Linked DNA regions of Homo sapiens: region 2 is linked to region 1. The links come from fine-mapping of genetic effects on gene expression. A gene starts in region 1. The other region holds a variant in brackets. All regions are shown on one strand. Distances are between the middles of the regions.

Region 1 (8,336 bases):
TTTTTTTTTTTGAGACGGAGTCTCGCTCTGTCACCCAGGCTGGAGTGCAGTGGCGCGATCTTGGCTCACTGCAACCTCTGCCTCCCGGGTTCAAGCAATTCTCTGCCACAGCCTCCCGAGTAGCTGGGATTACAGGTGCCTGCCACCATGCTTGGCTAATTTTTGTATTTTTAGTAGAGACGGGGTTTTACCATATTAGCCAGGCTGGTCTCGAACTCCTGACCTCATGATCCACCCGCCTCAGCCTCCCAGAGTGCTGGTATTACAGGTGTGAGCCACCGTGCCCAGCCCATATCTATTCTTTTTATTTGCCAGAATCTCTTCCTGCCTTCACTTGGTAGGACCAGCCCCTTTCATCTTGGGAACAAATCCTCCCTGGTTCCAAGCAGTTCTGATGGGCTGCTACTTATAATACCCCGCCTTCCTGGCCATAAGGGTGTGTGTATAATCAGGATCTGGCCACACATATACTCTACTTATTGTTGTCCACAGTAATTGACCTATGGATGGACACATGACCTAAGTCAGGTCAGTTCGAATCCTTTCCTACCATCTTATTTACAGATGGTAAAAGCAAAAAGGCCTCTCTAGCTGAGACGATTGAAACCTGGAGCTGTCTCTAGTCATGCTCTCCCCACCCCCAGCTTGTACAGAAAGCTCATATGGAATAGGAGAGAATAGGATCAAAACACTGAGAAAAGCAGAGACAGGGAAATAGTAGGAGCAAAGGTGAAAGTGTGAGAGTGACAAAAATTCCTTGCTTGGCCAAACAAACATTAGTCATGCTTCTGAGCCTTCTCCTGGGCCCATATGTGCGTTTTCTTGTAAAACTCAGTTTTAGAAAAGAGTTCTGCCAAGTCAGTTTAGCAAGAACCCCCACTCTCCATATCTGATCATTCTCAATATCTGATCAGATCCCTCATCCTCCACTATTGCCCAGGTCATGTCTGATCTCCCTGGCCTGTGTTCAGCAAGAATCCAGTTATGTCGGGTTAGCTAGAGTTCCTCATATTCCTGATGTTTCCTCTTAGTGATTTTTCATCCAGCAACCCCATCTGTTCTTTGTCTATAAATTCCAAGCTGCCTATGCTGTATTCTGCATGAGCTCCTTGCAGTAGTCCCTGTGCCGATTTCGATCGTGCTGGATAAAGCCTTCCTTACCATGCTTTAACACTGACTAATTTTTTCTTTAACAAGAGAAATGCTGATTCTGAATTGCTAGACTCCCACCGTTTCTGAAGTCCTTATCCTTCCCCCTATCTTAAAGTGGGAGTCAATACATCAGCTTTTTTTACTCAAGCTGGTTTGATAAGGGGTTTTGTTATTTGTACCTAAAAGCCGTGACCAATTTGTAGAGTAGGGCCATAAAGACAGGTACTACGCTCTACTTCAGGAGTGCTATCTATATTCCAGCTAAGGCTTACCACCTAGAGCAGTGCCTGGTACATGGCAAGTACTAAAGAAATATGTGTTGAAAGAGGAGTGCCTCTTCCTTGATACGCTTTTTTGGTCAATGGTTTTCTTAACTTGGTGCATTGATTAAAATAGGGAACATTTATCTCCTTTCCTCTCTTGCTCGTGGATATAACTCAAGATGGTTGCTGTTTAAATTTGAACACCTTAAATAAATGGCTCTTTTTGCAACTGGAAGCACAATTTTTGCACAGCTAGAAAAATCTTTTTCCAACACAGAAATTCCCAGTGCAGTTTTCTAAGAAACCCCCTACGATACGCAGCACAGCAGGCTCACCACAAGGCACATCAATCATTTTACTGTGTATCAGGCACCTCTTACAGGATTTTCTGTGATCCTGGTGTCAGTGCACATTCTGTATCAAGGCAGAGATGATATGTAGAAATCTGGCAGCTATTTAGAAGGGAGGCTGGGCAGTGGTGTGCCAGTATAATTAATGAGAGTCATCGCTTAGGAAATGAAGAGGGTGGGGGTTGGGAAGGATGCCTTTCACCATTCAATGGCATTTAAGAAAAATTGATGCTTTCTTAGCACTTTTAATGCTGGGAGGACATTAAGTCAAAGAATCACAGCAAAAGATTTTTGTAACTACTGTACAGATGGATGTCCCTGTGCTTGAAGAGGCAGGGCTAATTCAACCCCAGACTTTTCAGCCAGGCGGATTTCAACCTTGTATTGAGCTACCAGCAGGAGTTCTTTATACTTGGAAAAGTGGTAAATCCTTACTAAAAGATCATAGCTTGCATGACCAAGAGATCCTCTAGAAAAGGTACTTTACTACCATGTAGGATGTTTGTCTTACCTGCCCAAAGAAGTTTTAATGAAGATCTCATTTTCTCCAGTTCCCCTTTAACCAGTGAAAGAGGAGGGTATTATTTGTTTTGTTTTTCTATTTATTCTTTGGTAACCATGGAAGAGTTTGTGTAACCTAGAGAGGCTGCTTATTACCCACTGTCTAATCCCTTTGTTATTATTCCATACTCTGATTGTCACAAGCAGGAAAAATAGTTCTGTCCTGCTTCTAAAAACTTAGCAATGTAACACATTTTCTTGTTTTTAGTGATTTTCTCCAATTAATTAATTAATTGTTTTAGTGATTTTTCTCAGATAAATAATGTTAAAACGACTTGGAGAGAAAAGCTACATTAAAAGATTATGGATGTATAAATGTCCTAAACATTTAAGAACATGCATAATTATGATTCATACCAACTTCAGAATTATTACCTTTGGGAAGGGGTGGGGGTAACGAGTCAGGAGTTGGGGTTTAGCTATATCTGTAATGCTTTATTTAAAAAAGAAGGGCTGGGGGGAGCAGGAGTATTACATGGTATATATCCTGTTTTTGGTAGGTTTGAAATATCACACAATTTAAAAATTTAAAAGTTTACAAAATTATGGGAGTTGATTAAAACTATCAAAATAAAGAATGCATAGCAAACAAGTGCTCTTATTATGAACTTTGTGTCTGAGTTTATTTCAACATGTGCATCTGCATTTTTTCAGACTCAAGAAAGACAAACACCGGAGGTTAGGGGGTGAACTGCTGCTGTTGAGGGATTATCTTGGTGGTTTTTTTTTTTTTTTTTTTTTTTTTGGCTTTTCTATTCACCATGGAGGTTACCAGCAAAACAAATCTCCAACAAGCTTGTTTACAAAATATAAAGCAGTTTGGAGGCAGAGGGTTAATGACTTAATTTCTTATAAATTGAGGCTTGTGTATGGGCATGCAAAAAAACAAAAACAAAAACAAGTAAATTTGGGGAGGTTTCTTTCTATAGAGGCAAAGGACCTTACCTACATTTTTTCCAAATTGATTTCTTCCTGGTACTATTGGCAGGAAGAAATTCAAGTGGGTATTCTGGTGGCTTTTTTCTTTTTTCTGAGAGTCTAGGATTGTTTTCAGGACAAAGTTTCTTCTTGCCCATGGTGCTTTGCTGTGACATTGTAATTGCCTCTGTTGAATTGAATAATACAAATGGGTTGTTTCTATGGTATCGGCTAAGTGGGATGAAAAGGTGAAACCCTAGATCTTGCGCTGAGAGGTCACAGTGCTACCACCCTCCACACTGTCTGTCAAAGAGAACAGGCAGCCAAGGCCCTGAGCTCCAATCTCAGGCACTCATTTGTAACTTACTCGTTTGTAACTTCCTGGGCAAATTCACGCATGAAAAAAGAAAATGACTTTAGTTTATGTTGTCACTAAGCCCAGAAAATCCCTGCCAACCCCATGCTGCCAGCTTTCCTAGGACATTCTTATTGGAGGATTATTTTAAACTGAAAGGTGAGTGAAGAGCTGCGTCCCCACTCCTTCCCAGCCAGGCTTTGAACTAACAATAGGGCAGGTTGAATGAAGGCTGATAAATGTAAATCCTGGAATCCAGAAGCCGGATCACACCGCGGCCGTCTAGGCCAGCGGCGGTTCCAGCATCCGCCCCAAGCTGGTCACTCATCCTTTCAGTGCATTCAGTAGATTTCATCGTTTCATCAACACTTGAGTGCCTGCTTCGTGCAAGCTTTCCTCTGCCACCGCCGCCTTCTTACTCCCGGCAGGTTGCCCGCTTGAGTCAACCAGCCACTAAACGGATCTAAGTGAATAAGTGGCCTGTTAATGCCAAGGAGTAGCATTTCCAAATGAAGAGACTGGGGGTAAATAAAAGCAAAGTGTTACCATTTACACGCTCTCAATTTTAGTTGCACTTCACTCAGAGTAGATCTCTTTAATTTGCGGCATCGACAGATGCTATATTCTTAGAAATTTTTTTTTTTTAAAGGAGGTAAGACGGGCGTTTGAGAACACTTTTTACTTTGGTGCAAGTTGCACGCAGTTCCCATTCACTCAGAGTAGATCTCTTTAATTTGCGGCATCGACAGATGCTATATTCTTAGAAATTTTTTTTTTTTAAAGGAGGTAAGACGGACGTTTGAGAACACTTTTCACTTTGGTGCAAGTTGCACGCAGTTCCCATTCCCTGCGCCCTTCACTTCCAACTTTGTTTCTCCAACTCCTTTACCCCCCACCACCGAGGCCCTCTGGCTACAGCCCCGAGGGGTTACCCTGGGTTTCGAAACTTTTGAAACTTGCGGGGGAGTAAAAGTACTTCATTCCCAGTGCTTCTGGCCCTTGCCAAGCGGGGAGCCCCGCAGGAGAGTGTAAGCCAAGGGTTCCAGGTGCAGCCTTGGGGTTCCACGTGCAGCCCTAGGGTTCCGTACACCCATCCCGCCCGGGCCAGAGGAGGCAGCAGGCGCTCCAGTCCGCTCTCCGCAACTCCAGTTCCTGATTTCCTCGGAAGCTGCGGGGCCGAGAGGGAGGGGGGCTCCTGTGTGAGCGTGAGGATTTGAATGAGAAAGCAGGTTGTGGCGGCGGCGCCCTGCTCTTCCCCGCTCGTCTGGGGCTTCTGCTGGCTAGTGGGGAGAAGTGCTCTTCTAGGGGGGCTTTTCTGGCCCTTGGCAGGGGTTTGGAGTTGGAGTCACAGGGGCCAATAACTCATCACCCCAGCACTTCGGAGGTGGCTCCTTGTGCCACGGACTCCGAGGAGTCCTTCAGCTACTGAACACTCAAAGCTGAGGAGGTCAGTGCTTTCGGGGGAAGAAGGGGCCCAGGAGAGAAGGGGGTGTGCAGGAAAAAGAGAACTGGTACGCCAGTCCGATGAGCGAGTGAGCAGGTGGCCCAAGTTCCTTTCTCGGCAGCCACAGCCGGCACACGCCTGTTTAGGACTGTGAGTGCTGTGCGTGGGGATCCCCTAAGGCCCCGTGCGGGGAACTGGCCACGGCCGCTCTTCAGGGTCCCATAATTCAGAAGGATGAGGGTGGGTGTGTGTGTCCGCGAAATAATGTAACTCTCGGGTCCCTTGCGGTGGTGGTGGGTGGCGTTTCGCCCGGTGGAAGGTCCAGCCTCGCTGCAGGATGCTTCACCCTCACGCGGGGTCCCGGGACCCTCTCTCTGACCGCCAGACGCCGCCAGGAGAGCAGGTCCGCGTTTCCCAGCAAGGGGAGTGCAGCGTCCGTTACACTTGGGGAGTCTCACAGCTTTTCCTGCGCCCGGTGACCCTGCTCAGGACCTCTTAGAGACTAGGTGTGCTCAGCGCGAGGAGGATATACTCCATTGCCCTTTCCTGGGAAGAACCAAGAGCGCCCGAGCGGCGCGGGGTGGTGGAGGCAAACCCCGGCCCCGCGGCGGCACGCTCTGCGCCTGCGCGGCGTTTCCTTGGCGACTGAGCTGCGGGTCCGAGACGCCACCCCGCGAGCCCCTAAACCCAGTTCCCTGTTGAGCGTCTGCGACGCCCTCTCCCCTCCTTCCCGAGGCTTTTTCTATTTGTTTCCTTCTGCGAATCAATTTGTGATCACATTTTGACGTTGAGAGTTCAGCATTAAAGCAATAACCAACTAAATTAAAAAAAAAAACCCAACTTTTCCCTTCCCTTGTTACCGTTTTGATCACGGACAGAAGAAAATGGTGAGAGATTAGTTATTAGGGCAGCAATTGAAATCCCCCTCTGTCCCGAAAAGGGGAGACGAATAAAACATTTACTTCCTGGTAAGGAGTTAGAAAATTCAGTGAAGTGATTGTTCTCGAGCGTTACAAGAACAAATCTGTGCCTCCTAACCCAGGTGAAGAGCAGAGCTTGTACAACCCAGCAGCACCCATGTCCTGTTTATTGGCATGTTTATGACAAGGAGATGCTCTGCAAAAGGGACCAGAGTATAATGCCAATGAAAAGAAACAAAGGATTTCCCAGAAGAGGCGGTAGTTTTTTTCAGTTGCCTCAGCGTTTTGGTCACCTTTGGGGTTAAAGTCTTCTGCAGAGAATGCTTCAAGAAGCCTTAACAGAAGCCAGTTTTCTCAAGCTGGTCATTTTCTTTTTCTTTTTTTCTTTTTTGAGACGGAGTCTGGCTCTGTCGCCCAGGCTGGAGTGCAGTGGTGCGATCTCGGCTCACTGCAACCTCCGCCTCCTGGGTTCAAGCTATTCTCTTGCCTCAGCCTCCCGAGTATCTGGGATTACAGGCTCCCGCCACCACGCCCAGCTATTTTTTGTATTTTTAGTAGAGACGGGGTTTCACCATATTGGCCAGGCTGGTCTGGAACTCCTGACCTCAGGTGATCCACCCACCTCTGCCTCCCAAAGTGTGGGGATCACAGGCGTGAGCCACCGCGCCCAGCAGATGAGAATCATTTTCATTTTCATAAAATTGTGAATCTTGACAGCCCTATCCCCTCTTTTAAAATCCGTTTGTTTACATACAGCCTAGCATTTGGCAAAAGTACACATCTTAAGGGGTATGTAGAAGGAGCGGTAGCTTCTTGCTTATTTTTCTTAAACTGCATCAATATTTGGCAGCATGATTGGTACCTAGTTGCTATTTAACATTGGTTAGAATTAACATAAATGCTAATACAAATTTAAAATGGAGTTATTCTTCTTGGGATAAAGTGTGGCATAAAATACCTTGGATGAAGTAATACGTGAGTACTGTCTCGCTACATACCAGTTTCAAGCAATTTGTTTTCAAGAATAGCAAGTGTTTATTTGTGGTAGATGTTTTAAGATAATATCCTCCCACCATCAGCAAATGAAATCAAACATACCACTTTTCAAATGATTAGCGAGTAACATGCTGTTAAAGTTGTCTCCCATCTCATTTGTCATAAATTCTTAACATTGTGCAATCCATCTAGCTCAAATGTTTAAAAATAAGTCCAACTGAGTTTTTCCCCTTTTCTCATGTTTAGCAAAATAGAAAAACTCTTAATTTTCAGGTTCAGATACTTTGTGACCCTATTTGGTGGCTTGTAACTGGCTCCAATTCCCTAATTCTCAGTGACATGTGTTTCTGCTGGTTCCAGGAGGTAAACTGCAGTTTTAACAGATCATGGGATAATGAGACTGGGAGTACCTGGGGGAGGCTGGGGAGAGGCAATGGGAAGGAGACAAAGAGAGGGAAGGTTGATGGGCAGAGCGAGGATTTATAGTGGCACCAGATTTGCAATAAAATCTGTTTAAAGTTATTGCTTCCGTTTGATATATTTTCCCACATCATCAACTTCAATTAAATTTATTTTAAAAATCAGTCTTTCAGATATAGGGCTAGTATTATAAACATAGAATATGATAAAAGTGCTCCTTGTTAGGGTGCCATAATGTAAAATACTGTGAAAATTCTTAACGAAATGTTTTTTACTTAATTTATTCACTTAGTCAACAAATGTTTATTGAGAACGTATTATATATAAGGCAAGATGAATAAATCCAGATTTCTGTTCTGAATGAACTAAGAGCTGTGAGTCCTGAAATAATTCTAATACCACTTCAGACGTTCAGAGTGAAGATACTACCTTTGGTACTCTTAAGGAGAACGATTGATTTGGTGCTAATCACTCAGACTTGCAGATTCAGAAACAAATGCTGAAACTGAGTAATTTAGATAAGGCTGTACATCTAGGATAGGAAGCATTATGTGCACCTATTTGCTTACATTTTTGAAGTACAAACTCTACTCTAAAACTTGTAGTCTTGGCAAGTGCAGCACAGAGTTTAGAAGAAACAGAAACCTTGTAATTCTCAGGTTTCTTAGATGAAGATAAGGTGAGTGATTCAGTAATCCTTTGTTCTGGCTCTGTGTTTCATGACATAATGAACCTTCTGCAGCTTCCTTCTAAGAATGTTGGTCTGCATGCCTGAAGGATCATAACTATTTTTTCCCTGAACAAAAAAAAAAAAAAAAAAAAGAGGATATAAAATTATGATAAAAGGATAAAAGGAATACAATAGAGTATTTAAACATTTAACTTTTGAGATGGAATAATTTCTAGACATTTTTAGTGAATTTAAACTCTTGAAATCCATTACAGCCATGACAAAAT
Region 2 (8,336 bases), 190 kb after region 1:
ATTTGGATAACAATGTCTGAACTTAATGAAGAGTCTGGGCAAGATAAGGATTCCAAAATGCTGAACTTGGTATGTGGTAGTTAAAATCATGGAAGTGTACAAGATCACTTACAGAGAGAAGGGGAAAAGAGGAAGAGGCCTGAGGACTTCAGCAATACAACGATTAGGAGTAGGGAGCACAAGGGGAGCCAGCAAGGCCAGTGCAGAGAACAGGAGTACTTGGATCTAAAGGATGAAAGGGTTAGAAAGGAATAGCCAGAAATGCCACAGGGAACAGAAAAATAAAATAAAACTAAGTATCCAATTTAGTTGTATTTGACAGCAGGGAATTGTTGGTGGCCTTTGCTATGTAGGTTGGTGATATGTTAGTGGGCAGTTGGTTACCTGCTGTCGATTGGTGACTGGGCATTTTTCTGCATCCAAATGTTTGATGATATAGGCTGGGGGGCAACTTTGAGACTTGGAAGTGGGGGAAATAATATAGGTTTGTTTTCAGGTGGAATAAAGGGGACAAGAGATTTTTGAAAGGGCGCATGCCTGTTTTCTCAGAGAAGTAGGAGAGAACATCATCCACTCAGTATAAAGTGAGTGGAGATTGGCCACAGGGCTTAAAATCAGCAAATTGTTAAAGAAGTCATCAGAGAATGGGAAAGGAATTGACAAGGTAAGTCAGGGAAGCCCAAGCTGATTTCAAAAACAGTCTTTACTGATTCAAAATCTGGATGCTTAGACTCCCTTTGATCCCATCCCCAGCAGTACTCATCTGCTTAGAGAAGTAGTGAAGACAGATTATGGAATTGATCCAAGTCTCGGGATTTCTAGATCATATTAAATATCTTCAAGGTATTGGTGAGAGCTCTTATAAGTAACTGACAGGGGCTCCATGGTTCTAGGAAAGGAAGCGAAGTGGATAGGGGGCCATAAAATAAGATTAAGAGACTAGAAGACTCAAATAAATAGAAAAATGTGGAAAGTTGTCATCACACTTTAAGAAAATGAGAACAGAGCTGTCATTGCAATGGGATTTAGTCACAGGTGACAATTTCCAGATTGTGTCATGGGTGAGCATCATGGAAACAGAGTGAAGCAAGGGATTATTGGCCTGGAGGAGGTCAGTGCTAAGGGATTAAATAGATGGCTACATGGTGTTTTAATTTACAAAGTATGCAGACAGGAGCAGATTGGAGATTAAAACTATAAACCAGACACTTAAGTATAAAAACAATGTGGCCAGGCGCAGTGGCTCATGCCTGTAATCCCAGCACTTTAGGAGGCTGAGACAGGCTGAGGCTTGAGGTCAGGAGTTTGAGACCAGCCTGGCCAACATGGTGAAACCGCATCTCTACTAAAACTGCAAGAATTATCCGGGCATGGTGGCATGCACCTGTAGTCCCAGCTGCTCAGGAGGCTGAGGCAGGAGAATCACTTGAACCCAGGAGGCAGAGGTTGCAGTGAGCCGAGATCATGCCTTTGCACTCCAGCCTGGGCAACAGAATGAGATTCCATCAAAAAAAAAGTACTGGAGAGGATGTGGAGAAATAGGAACACTTTTACACTGTTGGTGGGACTGTAAACTAGTTCAACCATTGTGGAAGTCAGTGTGGCGATTCCTCAGGGATCTAGAACTAGAAATACCATTTGACCCAGCCATCCCATTACTGGGTATATGCCCAAAGGACTATAAATCATGCTGCTATAAAGACACATGCACACGTATGTTTATTGCGGCATTATTCACAATAGCAAAGGCTTGGAACCAACCCAAATGTCCAACAATGATAGACTGGATTAAGAAAATGTGGCACATATACACCATGGAATACTATGCAGCCATAAAAAATGATGAGTTCATGTCCTTTGTAGGGACATGGATGAAATTGGAAATCATCATTCTCAGGAAACTATCGCAAGAACAAAAAACCAAACTCCGCATATTCTCACTCATAGGTGGGAATTGAACAATGAGAGCACATGGACACAGGAAGGGGAACATCACACTCTGGGGACTGTTGTGGGGTGGGGGGAGGGGGGGAGGGATAGCACTGGGAGATATACCTAATGCTAGATGATGAGTTAGTGGGTGCAGCGCACCAGCATGGCACATGTATACATATGTAACTAACCTGCACAATGTGCACATGTACCCTAAAACTTAAAGTATAATAATAATAAGAAATAATAATTAAAAAAAAAAGAAAAGGTGATTAGAAGATGCCAGAAAGGTATAGCTGGATAGAATAAGCTTCAAAAGAGGAGAGATTTTTTAATGAGTGTAGAAGAACAATCATTTAAAAGTAGCAGTAAAGGCATAGATAATGCCTTTTGGTTTATATCTAAATCTTCTGTGATTTATACAAAAGAGCATCCTTGGAGAAAGGAAGTAGTGCCCTCGAAGGTAAGCTGGTGCTTAGCCAGGGTAAGGAGGTTGAGGAGAATTCCAAAGGGAGTCTGAAGATAAAAGGGAGTTGGTTTATGATTGAATGGAGATGCCATGAGTCACAGGGAATTGTCTTTTGATTTTGGTGGGGAATGTGCTGGGAGTCAGCAGTGGGATGACTGGTTTTCCTAGGCATGGTGGAAAGTGCAGGGCAATGAATAAAGCAGTAGGACAATGAGATAAGACTGCTTAACTGGAAGGGCCTTTCTTTGTCAGATAGTTTCTAGCTTGAATTTTCTGCTACAAAAGTGACAGTAATGTTATTAAGGTAAATCAACATGCTTAAAAAATGGGCAGGTATTAAAAACTACCTGCATACAGAAACATTAGGATGACTACAAATTGAATGCTCTGTAAATTTAGTCGTTCAATAGTATTTTTGCAATAGTTGCAGAGAGTACATACCAGCAATAGTGATTAACAATTGAGTAGCTTAAACAACTGAATAATGAAGATGCTATAAAATATTAAGAGGAAGAAAATCCTTTCAAGCAGTAAGATGTCTCAAGGTGACATTCTGCTCTCAGCCATTATTCAGCCCTTTGTTTGCTTAGCACTCAACAAGTTTTCATGTCTGGCATGCATAGAGATGCCCTGAGCACACAGCCTCATTGGATTCACACTGATGGTTGCCTATCATTGTAAATAGTGACATTTTCTTGGAGGTTCAAGTACAGAAAATGACTTTTAGTGACTCCATGAAGTGACAGTCAACTCTAGACAATTTTACAACTTTGTTAATTCTGTCTCTTCTGCTCTATTTCTTTTGCTTTTCAGTTCTTTCAGATACCTAGGCTTCTCTTTTTGGTTTACCTGTCCAAAATCAGTATCCTACCCAAGCCTAACCATGTTTCTGTCATTAATTCCTTATACCGACTCAAAACTTCTAAACCTCCAGCTTTGTTTGGGGTATTAAGAAGGAAAGTTATCTGATTAAGATAATTCATGATAAAGTACACATGATTTTTAGTTGTTGCTTTTCCAGTAGTCTTTTAATTCTAAAATGGGAGCTTTTGGAAATTGTGTGCAGTAGATGACATTGAACAAGAGCCTTCTCTTGTACCTTCTTACTTCCTGTTTTCCAGTCGCTGCTGTAATATAAAGAAGCTACTTGGCTCTGTATGTCCAAAAGGTTACCTTCTCCAGATACTTGTACAAACGAGGCTATGCACAGCTATGGTATAATTTTGAAGGATATGTAATTTTTTATATGCTCCCAAATATCTTCCTCACCAGCTTGCATCAGTAAATTCTTTCCCTAGTATTTGGCTTAAAGTTCTTATTATTAGAATAATCTATAACTGGACAATAGAAGTTGAACTACTATTTCTGGAATGTTTTTCTTGAGGAGAATAATTATATTTATCTCAGAGACTTGGCCAGCTTTGCATTTGACCTATTTCTTTGTATTTGTTTGTTCATTTTGTTTTTGTGTGTTTGACCTATTTCTTATTGGAAATAGTGGTTGTCACCTTGGATTTGAATGTATTGTAGGAAGGAAAAGAGGACCTACTATGATTTTAGCAACTTTAGTGGACCAGGTCCTGGCTAAGTGTTTTCCGTGCATTCTCATTTAATTCTTATAACACCACCAAGAAAGAGGGAATAATCTCTTCTTAAGAGATTCAACTCATAGTTAAATAAATGGCTTAAGTTCCCGAGGTTAGGAAGCTTGGAAGCTGGGATTTGAACTCAGGTTGGTCTGACTCTTGAATTGCACTGTTCTCCAGAAAGTCTGTGTGTTTTTGGAGGAGCAAGCATTGAATGACATGACCAGCCCTAAGGAATTGAATGAGGCTGTCA[T/G]GTCATATAAGGATGGCCAGAGAAAGTGAGGAGCACAACATAGAGGAGAGGTTGGCATTAAAAGGAGGAATTTGCTTCATTTGTGATTAGGCCTACCACCTAAATATTTAGATGTTCCTGAAGGCTTAGCATTTGGTGACATGATCTCTGTGGTCCTCCTAACAATATCTGTCAGTCCTGTGATTTGAAGACCTTAGTCCACATTTGAAGCTTGGGCACAGAGACACCAGTGTGTGTATAGTAGTCTCCTCTTATCTGCGGTTTCATTTTCCATGGTTTCAGTTAGCCATGGTCAGCTGCACCCCGAAAATATTAAATAGAAATTCCAGAGAGAAACAACATATAAGTTTTAAGTTGTGTACCATTCTAAGTAGTGTGATGAAATCTCACACCGTCCTACTCTGTCCCTTCTTCACCACAAGAGGAAAGGTGATACAGTAAAATATCTTGAGAGAGAAACCACATTCACATAACTTTTATTGCAGTATAATTGTTCTGTTTTACTATTAGTTATTGTGAATATCTTACTGACCTAATCTATAAACTAAACTTTATTATAGGTATGTATATGTAGGAAAAAAACAAGGGTGTATGTATAAGGTTCAGTACTTTGCAGTTTCAGGCATCTACCGGGAGCCTTAGAATTTATCTCCCGAGGATAAAGGGGTACTGCTGTATACCTAGTGGCATTTTATCTGCCATGTGGCCAGATGAAGGTATTTTTATTCTTAAACAGCTGCAGTTAGAATTTAAAGAACACAATTTATAGAATGTAGCCGGTCATGGGTTGAAAATTTCAGGTCCCACAGCTGTTTTCTGAAGCAGCTTTTGCTAAGTGTAGCACTTGAGAGATGGAGAAGAATGATTCTACAGTATTTTCACACTATTGTGACCTGGAGGTTCTCTCTACTTTCAAGCTTCTATTTTGGTAATGTTATGTTTTCCATCTCCATTAGTTCAGCTGCAATAATGTCCTTAGTCAGGATATGTACACAGTGTCTTGAGGAAGAGCAATAAGTCTTTTTGGTGAGGTGGGCTTGTCAGCAAATCAAATGGATAACATTTTTACATGGCCTTTTATTCGCTTGATTTTCAGCCTGAGTTGCTTAATAAATATGGATGTTCTGTCCAGGGGATTTTCATTCTCATTATGGGACTGATGTTGCATTGCTGTTGTAATCGGTTTATGACTTCTCCAGTTATCTCTGGGAGTGCTATCAGGGTGGAACGTCTTTAAGCTCCATTATGAAAAGCTGTCATGTTAGCTATTTGGCCTTCAGAATGGCTAAATCTTTGTTGGAGTTGCTTTGCTTTTGGGGTTCCATAGTGTGTAACCTGATTGAAAAATGGGCCCCGGCTCTTTTATGAGCAGGGGAATTGGACAGAGGATTTCTACCTTGCCAACATTCCCATTTACAGCATTAGCACTTACAGGAAACTTCACTGCCATTTGAACCTGGCCACGAATGCCACATATTAAGATGCCAGTACCATTTGGGAATGTTGTTATCTTCATCTCACAGACAAGTGATGGAATTAGATATAAAAATTGAACATTAGGAGAACCTCCTATCCTCAGTTATGAATATTCTGCCTATGTTGTAAATACTAGCCAAAGAGTGCCTTCTTTCATGACTCGTGTAGTTTTAATTTTTGATGTAGACACCATAAGCAAGTCGGGCAAGGTATTGCTTTGTCGCCTTTGCATTCTTTTGGAAAAGCTATTAGTTCCTTTATGAAGAATCCTGTTATGCTCTTTCTTCTCCAAGAAGGGACCACAAAACAGGGTAAAAATTGTTAAAATTATATATTATTTGAAACACCTGTTAAGTTTTTTCCATAATTATTTCCAGAGACAAATTAAAGACTGTCAAGTACATGGAAAAATATGGATGACGCTTCTCTTGTGAGAAGATGTTGTTGATACATATGACCTCATTTGCAGGCCCCAAGGAATAGTAGACACTCTCTGATAGTATCTCAGAACCTTTGGTTTTCTTAACAGCATTTTATCCTTAAACATTGTTTTTAGCATTCCTGTGGTATCAACTGTGAATGTTTTTTCTTCTTTTATTTTTTCTATTTTTTTCCCATAGGGATATTTGAACAGCCAGTGTTTAGTGGATTAATATAGATAGCTGTATTAGTCGGGGTTCTGCAGAGAAACAGAACCAATAAGATATGTAGAGAAAGCAAGAGATTGAGATTCGTTGTCTGATTTTTAAGGAATTGACTCTCATGCTTGTGGGTGTTGGCAAATCTGAAATCTGTAGAGCTGGCCAGCAGGCTGGAATTCAGGCAGTTTCTGTGTTGCAGTGTTGAGAATTTATCCTTGAAGGGTAACCTCAGTCTTTGCTCTTAAGGCTCTCAGCTGACTGGGCGAGGCCCACTCACATTGTGGAGCATAATCGGCTTTACCCAAAGCCTACTGATTTAAATGTTAATCCTATTTTTAAAATATCTTCACAGAACATATAGACTGGTGTTTGACCAAATAACTGAACATCATAGCCAAGCCTCATTGACATGAAAAATTAACCATTACAATCACATTGTAATTATGGTGAGCATTTTGAATATTTTAAAAGAAAAACAGAGATATCTCCTGGGGTAATACACAAAACACACATATAGGGGAAGGTGCTACTAAAATAGAGAACATATGTGGTTCACAACTGTGTGGTCCTAATTAAAGGCAGAGTTTCTTTTATTTTGAGACGGAGTTTCACTCTTGTTGCCCAGGCTGGAGTTGCAATGTCACGAGCTCGACTCACTGCATCCTCCACCTCCCGGGTTCAAGCGATTCTCCTGCCTCAGCCTCCTGAGTAGCTGGGATTACAGGCATCCGCCACCACACACAGCTAATTTTTGTATTTTTAGCGGAGAAGGGGTTTCACCATGTTGGCCAGGCCGGTCTCGAACTCTAAAGGCAGACTTTCAATCAGCATTCCATTATGCAAATTCAGCTTGCAGAAATGTTTATGTTTGACCCATATTGTAGTTTTAAAAATGGATTAATTGCCAGTATTTAAAAATTGGGAAAATTCACAGCAATAAAATCTAGACATTTTAGTTTCCTCAGAAGTTCTGGCAACCAAGGTTCTCATTCCTACTTAGTAATGATTAACAGTAAGTAGTTATCTCATTCAGGCACACATTTCCCATTGAGCCGCTGCACTTATTTATATTAACTGCTAGGCTTTTGGTGGTGTTTGAGATGATGACCTCTTGCCATAAGGAAAAGAGAGATCCTGTGGGCTAGCGAGGTTCTGTGGGGGATCCTAGTTTTGCCTTGATTAGGATTTAGGTAAGCAAAATGAGAAGGGGATATGTCAGTTGACTTTAAAGAAAGAAGAAAAGACACATGGAGGTGGGAATGTGTGTGAGAAAATTTGCCTAACCAGAAGAACAAGCCTGTGAGCTTGGGTGTAGGAGAAAGTAAGATTGAATTGTCAGACAGGAGCTAGCATGGTAATTAAGGCAACATTGTCCTTTTAACAATAAAACTTCAAATTTCCTGTGCCTTAAAACAACTGAAGTTTATTTCTTGATTATGTCAAGTTCAAAATAGGTGTTCCTAGTGGGTGAATCTCTCAAGCAGTTTTGTCTTTTTCCATCTTGTGGCTGTGCCATCTTCACCACTTCTAAAGTCACAGCAGAAGAGGAAAGAAGACGAATGATTATGTAAGGCAGCAGGTTTCTGTCAACCATACCTGGAAGTGGTGCACATACTTTCTGCCCACATTTCACTGGCCACATCCTCCTGCAAAGGAAGGCTAGGAAATAGAGTCCAGCTGTGTTCCCTCGATAAAAGAAGAAACAGGGTTAGTGAATGATTAGCCAGGCTCTAGCACAAGAGACAGGGGCGTTGGAGGTAAGCACGCAAGAGCTATTGTATGAGGTAAGATATTTATTAATCCATTTAGCATATATTTACAGACTACTTACTTCTCTGTGTTGGATGCTGTGCTATGCACCAAGTAGGCTTTTGAGCAAAGGAGCAATGAGGTGAAAGTAGTGTTTTGAGGAATTAGCCTGGGGGCAAAATATAAAAACAAGAGAAAGCAAATTCTTAGTCAGAGGGGCATGGTGAAAA

What was found. PIP is the estimated chance that this variant, and not a neighbour inherited with it, causes the effect.
Region 2: its variant is fine-mapped to the expression of PLCH1 in whole blood (INTERVAL, PIP above 0.99).

The regions. Positions count from the first base shown.
Region 1 is chr3:155,741,550-155,749,885 of GRCh38, reverse strand. It overlaps PLCH1 (phospholipase C eta 1), which reads left to right and starts at 4,815. Exons shown (of 23, transcript NM_014996.4): 1 at 4,815-5,046. RefSeq lists enhancers at 4,853-5,062, 4,957-5,578.
Region 2 is chr3:155,554,973-155,563,308 of GRCh38, reverse strand. All of the region lies in intron 8 of PLCH1 (phospholipase C eta 1), which reads left to right. Among named protein-coding and RNA genes, the nearest start is that of PLCH1-AS2, 73 kb to the right of the region's middle. The variant T/G (reference allele first, on the strand shown) is at 4,241.